2 linked regions of the Homo sapiens genome follow. The protein of the gene in region 1 purifies or fractionates together with the protein of each later gene. This does not show direct contact. Each region holds a gene or a part of one and is shown on either strand. Other genes may lie near its edges. The genes, in order: ATP8A2 and DDX46.

The links.
Region 2: the proteins of ATP8A2 (region 1) and DDX46 fractionate together in Homo sapiens (co-fractionation; one large-scale study listed by BioGRID). This does not show direct contact.

The regions. Positions count from the first base shown.
Region 1 is NC_000013.11:25,581,243-25,585,064, forward strand, and holds part of ATP8A2 (phospholipid-transporting ATPase IB), read left to right. Parts: intron 1-576; coding exon 577-715; intron 716-3,822. UniProt on the Homo sapiens protein: Catalytic component of a P4-ATPase flippase complex which catalyzes the hydrolysis of ATP coupled to the transport of aminophospholipids from the outer to the inner leaflet of various membranes and ensures the maintenance of asymmetric distribution of phospholipids.
Region 2 is NC_000005.10:134,782,711-134,786,532, forward strand, and holds part of DDX46 (probable ATP-dependent RNA helicase DDX46), read left to right. Parts: intron 1-234; coding exon 235-355; intron 356-1,655; coding exon 1,656-1,831; intron 1,832-2,754; coding exon 2,755-2,876; intron 2,877-3,822. UniProt on the Homo sapiens protein: Component of the 17S U2 SnRNP complex of the spliceosome, a large ribonucleoprotein complex that removes introns from transcribed pre-mRNAs.

The sequences.
Region 1 (3,822 bases):
GGGCAGCTGGAGGGAACCAAACATCCACACCCATCCTCAGCATGAGCTGATCTGCCCTGGGCCTTTAAGAGGACCAAAAGGGGCAACATTTTATAGCTACCCTCAATCTTAAGATACTTGGATTTTTTTTCTCTCACTGTTAAATCCTTAGCACCACAGGTCTCTTACTCCTATTTTGCCAGGTAAGTGTATTATCTAGAATTAGTTCTCCTCCTTTGTTAAATGTGACATAATATGCTACTCATTAGTGGACTGAGAGGAAGGGCTCAGGTACTGTCAGTGTCCTCGGGATAACCTGCCCATCTGCTCTGCTGCCAGATGGCTTCTATTCTAACAAGCCCCTGTATCAAGAAATCAGTGATGAGTACTGGGCTGCCTGTGTGTGTAGAGTGAGTCCACCATTGCAAGGCATTTGGAAATGCCATCCATCCAGATGCCATCTGTAGACACAAGTATAAAATAGAGGAAATAGAACAACTGTCTCAGAACCGTTTGATTGCCTTTCTTTGTCAGAATTTGTTAGTGCTGTTCTTAAGTATGTGCCAATCTTTAACTGAGGATATTTTTTCAATGTAGAATTTGCTGCTACTTGGAGCCACAGCCATAGAAGATCGCCTTCAAGCAGGAGTTCCAGAAACCATCGCAACACTGTTGAAGGCAGAAATTAAAATATGGGTGTTGACAGGAGACAAACAAGAAACTGCGATTAATATAGGTAATTATTTTTACAAATAATTTCCTGATGCTGGGTTTTGTATTTGTTTTTCAAGTATCTTTTAAATGTGTCTAAATGTTTCTCAAATTCATTGACAGATGATGTTTTATAGGAATCTTCATTCACAAGGCTAAGGAAAATTGACCTAAATCAAATGAAGATGCCTCCATGCCTGTTACAAACATTAAAACTATCATAGTTCCTGGAAAAGAATTAGACACACTTACATAGGGCATAGAATTCAAGATTTGACAGCTTTGATTTTCTTATTGCTTTCTTCACAAAATTTTAGTCTGAGACTAAGAGAGCATGTTTTTACTAGGTTTAAATATGCGTTATTATTTTATGTAATTATAACCATTTTAATGGTTTTGCCCATTAATGGGCTTTTCTAAGAGCCTTGCATCTTTCCCTTCCCAGCTTGTTGACAACTTCCTTGACTGCAGAGCATCACAGAGATGAAAATTGAAGAAAAGGAATTTAAGTCAGGATAACTCTGCCGTTGTTAAAGGAGCACGTTTTAAGTTTGAAAAGGAGTTGAAGCTACTCATTTTTTAAAAATCTAATCTTGATTATTTGAAACATTTAAACACTATCTGGTACTTTGATCAGCATTATGGTGTAACAAGACCTGGTGCATATGTGGTAAAATGAACACTGCATAACTTAGAATAGCTTGCTAGAAGTAGACTCTATTTCTATATCTGTTTCTATGTCAGTGCTCTGTGTTTTAGGAAGAAACCTGCTAGAGCCTTTGTATTTAAGTGACTATAGTCCTCTTCAGAGTAGTCTTCTTGGAATATTCTCAACATAATCCAATGGTGTCCCTTTCCTGAAAACCTTATCTTTGAATCAGCTTTGTCTCTCATGTAACCTCAGTTGTAAATAATACCTGCCTTCTTGGATAAATTTGATTTAAAAAAATAGACAAAAGCCATGTAATCATTTCTTGTCAGGGATATAGCTAATTAAATGGAAGTTGGGCTCCCAAACAACGGAAGTTAAGCTCACAAGAGAGTAACATAGGATTCATAAACAGTCCCTGAAGAATCAGCCATAGACTTTGTCCCTGGATTTGTGCTGGTTGTCATTCAGATGCATGGTTTTGGAGAACAGTATGATGGTATTTTAGTGCAGAATCATCACTGCTACTAGAAAATACAAACCCAAGCTTACAGCCCTTTGATGATGTGTCAGTAGCATTTTTACAAATGAAGAATAACACATTTGCTTTTTGTATGCTATATTTCTGTATAAGTATATACATTGACCCTTTATGTGTTATTTTTCATATAAGTTTGGCCTAAAACACCTGCTATGGATCTGTGGCCCCTGTTGTTTGCATGCTAAGTTGACTGTTACCCTGAAATACTTACCTAAAATTTAGGTGATATGCTTTCCACCCTATTAGAGCAATGTGAAAAAAGTGGATAACCCCTCAAGTTAAAATTGAGCTGTAAAGTGGTAACCTTTCTTAGTTTTCCAGATCTTGAGCGTTCCCGCTGGCCTAATAACCTATGCGTGTCACTGGCCCTAGACTGAACTACCTTCAGTGTGTTCTTGGATGTGCCCTGGCTGGAAAAGCACCACAGCTCCCTCTCACTGCCTCTCATCCACACCGCCCGGCCCCTGGGAGCACACGCAGCCCTTTTTCGTGTGTGTTCATTTTATTATACCTGAGCCTATCTAGCTAAGTTTGGGATAAACACAAGAGAAAGCAAAGTGCTGAAAATCAACCCAGAAAACACAAATGGATTATTACTCAAAAACGAAAGTTTTACTTGTATGTGATGAGGCTGCTCTGAGCCTTATGAGATAATTGATACCTGTCCAAACAATTTTTTAAAAATAACGATTGTATTATTTTGTACTTTTTTTCTAAGTGGGTGTAGTAACGTGTAGTGCTCATGCCAGAACCGCTCACATCATTTGCTATCTCTTAATTGATCTTTCTTAGCAAGTACTCTCCAAGACCGCTAGAAGATGATGCTTTATAAGCTGAGGACTTTTTGTCAAAGTCTTATGTTTATCCTGGAGGCTTTCTCTATTCACATTTTATCTAGTGTATCAGTCAGATTCAAACACATCTTGGGTGTTACTAAGTAAGCTTCTAACAGCTAGACAATTGATTTCTTTGAGAGAGCTATGTCTGAATTGTTTCTTCACTTCACCTTTGGAACTGAAGCTTGTAGCCTTGGGTGACGCCGAGAATTTAAATGTCGTCTTGTGATTTAAAGTATCTGTCAAGCCTACAAATGATGCAGAAGGCTCAGGAAAGCATATACGTCCGGACATTTTATTAGACTTTTCAGTGTGGGACCACAGGCGGCAGCTGTCAGCAGCATGAGGTCATGCTCTAGATACAGAGTGGGTTTCTAAGCCTGTTTTCTAGTCATATAGCCCTCATACCCCTGGTAGTATGAACCATTATGGACCTGTCTCCCATAATACTTTACATTTTCATGCATCCTGTGTGGATTTTAAGGTATCCAGAAGATATTTGGGAAGATCAAGTATCTAGCAGTTCTCCTTCTAGATGAAAAAAGGGAAGCAGAGCAAGTAAATGGAGTGTCTGGCAAGTGCCAGGCACTATACTAGGAGTGTTTTCTGAAAACTCTTTTTTTAATATTTACATATGAACATTCTTATAGCTCGAGGAGGAAATTCTACATTTCCCAGGGCTATACCCTACTTAATGACCAAACTGGTACTAGGTCTCAGGGCTCTTGACTTCTGGTGTGGGGCTTATTTAGAGGGATTCACATAGCTTTTGCAAAAAATGCTTTCTGAAATTTGATTTAGAAGACCACGGAGAATGGTACTACATTTCATCCATTCCAAGGTGCACATTGTTTTTACATTTTAATGTCTCTGAAATGGGGATGTCGTATAGTTGTTGACTCTTAGCTTTTAATTGTCAGCATTATCTTAGTGGTATGTACCATAAGAGTTCATCTTTAGATTTGGTGACATTAATTATCTTTGGTGTTTGGAGGTGTTGGCTCTTTTTAGAGTTTGGTTTTTTAAAATATATATATCTATCTCGTAGTTTGAGAATTTATTTTTAAAGTTTAACTTTTTATTCATACCTTAGAAAAAAAACACAC
Region 2 (3,822 bases), on another chromosome or scaffold:
TTGTACTTTTTGTTGAGACAGGGTTTCACCATGTTGCCCAGGTTGGTCTTCAACTCCTGGGTTCAAGTGATCTGCCTGCGTCTGTCTCCCAAAGTGCTAGTTGCTAGGATTACAGGTGTGAGCCGCTGGGTCTGGCATAAGAGTTAAAGTTTGTTAATCTTATGCCTAATTGAAAAGTAGAAGACACCAATAGAACAATATTTAAGAACTTTTAATCTGGGTTTTGTTTTGTAGAGGTAAATGTGTTTCGATTGGAAATGGAGGGCATTACAGTTAAAGGAAAAGGTTGCCCCAAACCAATTAAATCCTGGGTCCAGTGTGGAATTTCCATGAAGATCTTAAATTCCCTCAAGAAGTAAGTGGTTGGTGGTTGTTTATGTTTTCCGTGTCTTGCTGCTCAAAATAGTCCTTCCACACCAGTGTCTCCCTGAGTTACATTTTTACTCTAAAAAAACCCTTACGTTTTAAAAAACTTTCATTGAGATAATTTATATATCAAAATTTACCCTTTAAATTATACAACTGGTTTTTTTTTGTTTTGTTTTGTTTTGTTTTTTGAGACAGAGTCTTGCTCTGTTGCCCAGGGTGGAGTGCAGTGGTGCAATCTCACTGCGCTCACTGTGACCTCGGCCTCCCGGGCTCAAGCAGTTCTCCTGCCTCAGCCTTCCGAGTAGCTGAAACTATAGGTGTGTGCCACCATAGCTGGTTATTTTTATTTTTAGTAGAGACAGGGTTTCACCATGTTGGTCAGGCTGGCGTTGAACTCCTGACCTCAGGTGATCCGCCCGCCTCAGCCTCCCAAAGTGCTGGGATGACAGGCGTGAGCCTCCATGCCCGGCCTTTTTTTTTTTTTTTTGAGACGGAGTTTCACTCTCGTTGCCCAGGCTGGAGTGCTGTGGCTCGATCTTGGCTCACTGCAACCTCCGCCTCTTGGGTTCAAGTGATACTTTTGCCTCAGCCTCCCAAGTAGGTGGGATTACAGGCATGTGCCACCATGCCTGGCTAATTTTGTATTTTTAGTAGAGACAGGGTTTCTCCATGTTGGTGAGGGTGGTCTCGAACTCTCTACCTCAGATGATCCACCCGCTGCGGCCTCTGAAAGTACTGGGATTACAGGCGTGAGCCACCAAGGCCGGCCTTTTTTTTTTTTTTTTTTAAGAGATGGGGTGTCGCTATGTTGACCAGGCTGGTCTCCAACTCCTGGCCCCAAATGATTCTCCCATCTCAGCCTCCCAGAATGCTGGGATTTCAGTCATGAACCACTGCGCCCTGCCTAATTTTTAAATTTTTCATTATCCCAAAAAGAAACTTTTGTCCATTAGTAGTCAGTCTTCTCCCCTCTCCCCACCCCTGGGCAACCATTAATCTATTTTTTGTCTCTAGAATAGATTTGGCTATTCCTAACATTTCATGTAAATGGGATCAAACAATATATAGTCTTTACTGCCTGATCTTTTTCACTTTACATAATGTTGTAAAGATTAGTCCATATTGTAGAATGTGTTAGTACTTCATTCCTTTTTATTGCCAAATAGTATTTTATTGTATGATATATACCACCTTTTGGAAGTTCATTTTTATGGGAACACATAGGACCTGTCTGGGGCCCAGCAATCTCAATTCTTACCTTTTCTTCCTTTGGTTTTCTTTTTAAGGCATGGCTATGAAAAGCCCACGCCCATCCAAACCCAAGCTATTCCTGCTATAATGTCTGGACGAGATTTGATTGGCATTGCCAAAACAGGAAGTGGAAAGACCATTGCTTTTCTGTTGCCCATGTTTAGACACATCATGGATCAGAGGTCATTAGAGGAAGGAGAGGGGCCAATAGGTACAATTCTTTTCATTAAACTATTTTTCAAATAACAGCTTTGTTGTCAAACAGAAAGACCTTATAGTTTATAATGTTCTTAATTATGACAATGAAGTTGTCTTTATGTACATTTTCTTTATCAATTTGGCACTTTGGGGCTGATTTCCCCTTACCAGCAGGTGGAGTGAGAATCTTCAGAGCTCTGGAGTGACATCTCAGAAGTACAAAAACAGCCTCTCCTGGCACAGCTCAGTTTTTAAACTCTGACTTGGCAGGTAGACTCCTCGTGCATCTATCTGTTTATTTATATTGAGGTTTGTTAGCCCAGTATCAGTGGATATATAAAAGCGACATGGAAGATATCCTAGGGAAACATATTTTCCTAGGTAGTTTTTGGCCTTAACAGGCTATAATGCCAGCATTTCATTCAAGATTACTTGTTTAGATTCTGGTTTCTTGATTCATCTTGGCAGAGATAACTCTTGGAAAGTTGAGTAGGGTTTTGGAAAGTTGTTCAGCTTCTCTCTTAGGAACACGGGGCATAGTATATCTCTCCTCTGTCTGTGCCCCTCAGACCAAGGTTGTTTCTGGAAGCAGCAGTATGGCTTCTGTGGCACAGTGAGTCACTTGATTTTCTTTGTTCTGTGATTTGCATTAGAAAACTGTTTGCATTCTTTTGAACCAAGTATTTTCCTGAGGGTTGGATGAGGCATTTAACTGTCATTTATCTTCTTTTAGCATGTTTTTAAAAATCTGCTTATATTTATCCTTCCCCACAACCTCTGCTGTTATACAACTTTTGAAATAGTTTTCAGGGATGCATAACAAAACAAAAATTAGGTGAAACAATCTGAACTTTATTGTAAAGGTTAAATTGAACACTATAAAGCACAGCCTTAAGAATTTTGGTGGTTAGGCTACTGATGTATTTATCTTTCCAGCTGTCATCATGACTCCAACTCGAGAACTGGCTTTACAGATTACTAAAGAGTGTAAGAAGTTTTCCAAGACTTTGGGACTTAGAGTGGTCTGTGTTTACGGAGGAACAGGAATCAGTGAGCAGGTAGTTATATAAGAAACATTCATGTTTTCCATTCTTTTCTCAAGTTGGATGATTCAATAAAGTAAAAGTGACTTTTACTTTTAGTTTTTTGAATAGTGATTGCTTCTAAAATCATTTAAAAAATGAAGTATAAAAATAATAGTAAGAATTAGTTATTTTATGTAGGATGAATACCTTTGGAGATGTAATGTACAGCATGGTGACTAGTTAATGTTATATTGTGTGCTGAAAATTCGCTAAGCCAGTAGATCTCACATCATGTTTTTTTTTTTTCTTTTTTGAGATGGAGTCTCGCTCTGTCACACAGGCTGGAGTACAGTGGCGCGATCTCGGCTCACTGCAACCTCTGCCTCCCTGGTTCAAGCGATTCTCCTACCTCAGCCTCCCAAGTTGCTGGGACTACAGGTGCCTGCCACCACGCCTGGCTAATTTTTGTATTTTTAGTAGAGACGGGGTTTCACCATATTGGCCAGATTGGTCTTGAACACCTGACCTCAGGTGATCCTCCTGCCTCGGCCTCCCAAAGTGTTGGGATTACAGGTGTGAGCCACCGTGCCTGACCAATCTTACATGTTCTTACCACAAAAGAAAATATTGGTAACTATATGAGGTGATATGTTAGCTTGATTGTGTTCATCATTTCAGAGTGTATATGTATATCAAACATGTTGTACACCTTAAATATATATAATTTTTGTTAATTATGACCCAATATAGTTGTGGCAAAAAAGAACATACTATGTTAATGCTAGATTAGAATTTTTGAATCTTTTTACATAGATTATCCCTCCTCCCTCTTCCCCTGCCTGAGAAAGCAGATTTTTTTTTTCATTTTACATATGAGGAAATATTCAGAAAGATTTATTAAGTTGACCAATTAGGTTAATACGTTCTAGAGTTTGTCCTGGAACCTAGGTCTCTGATCTCTGAGCATTTGTTTCTCTAA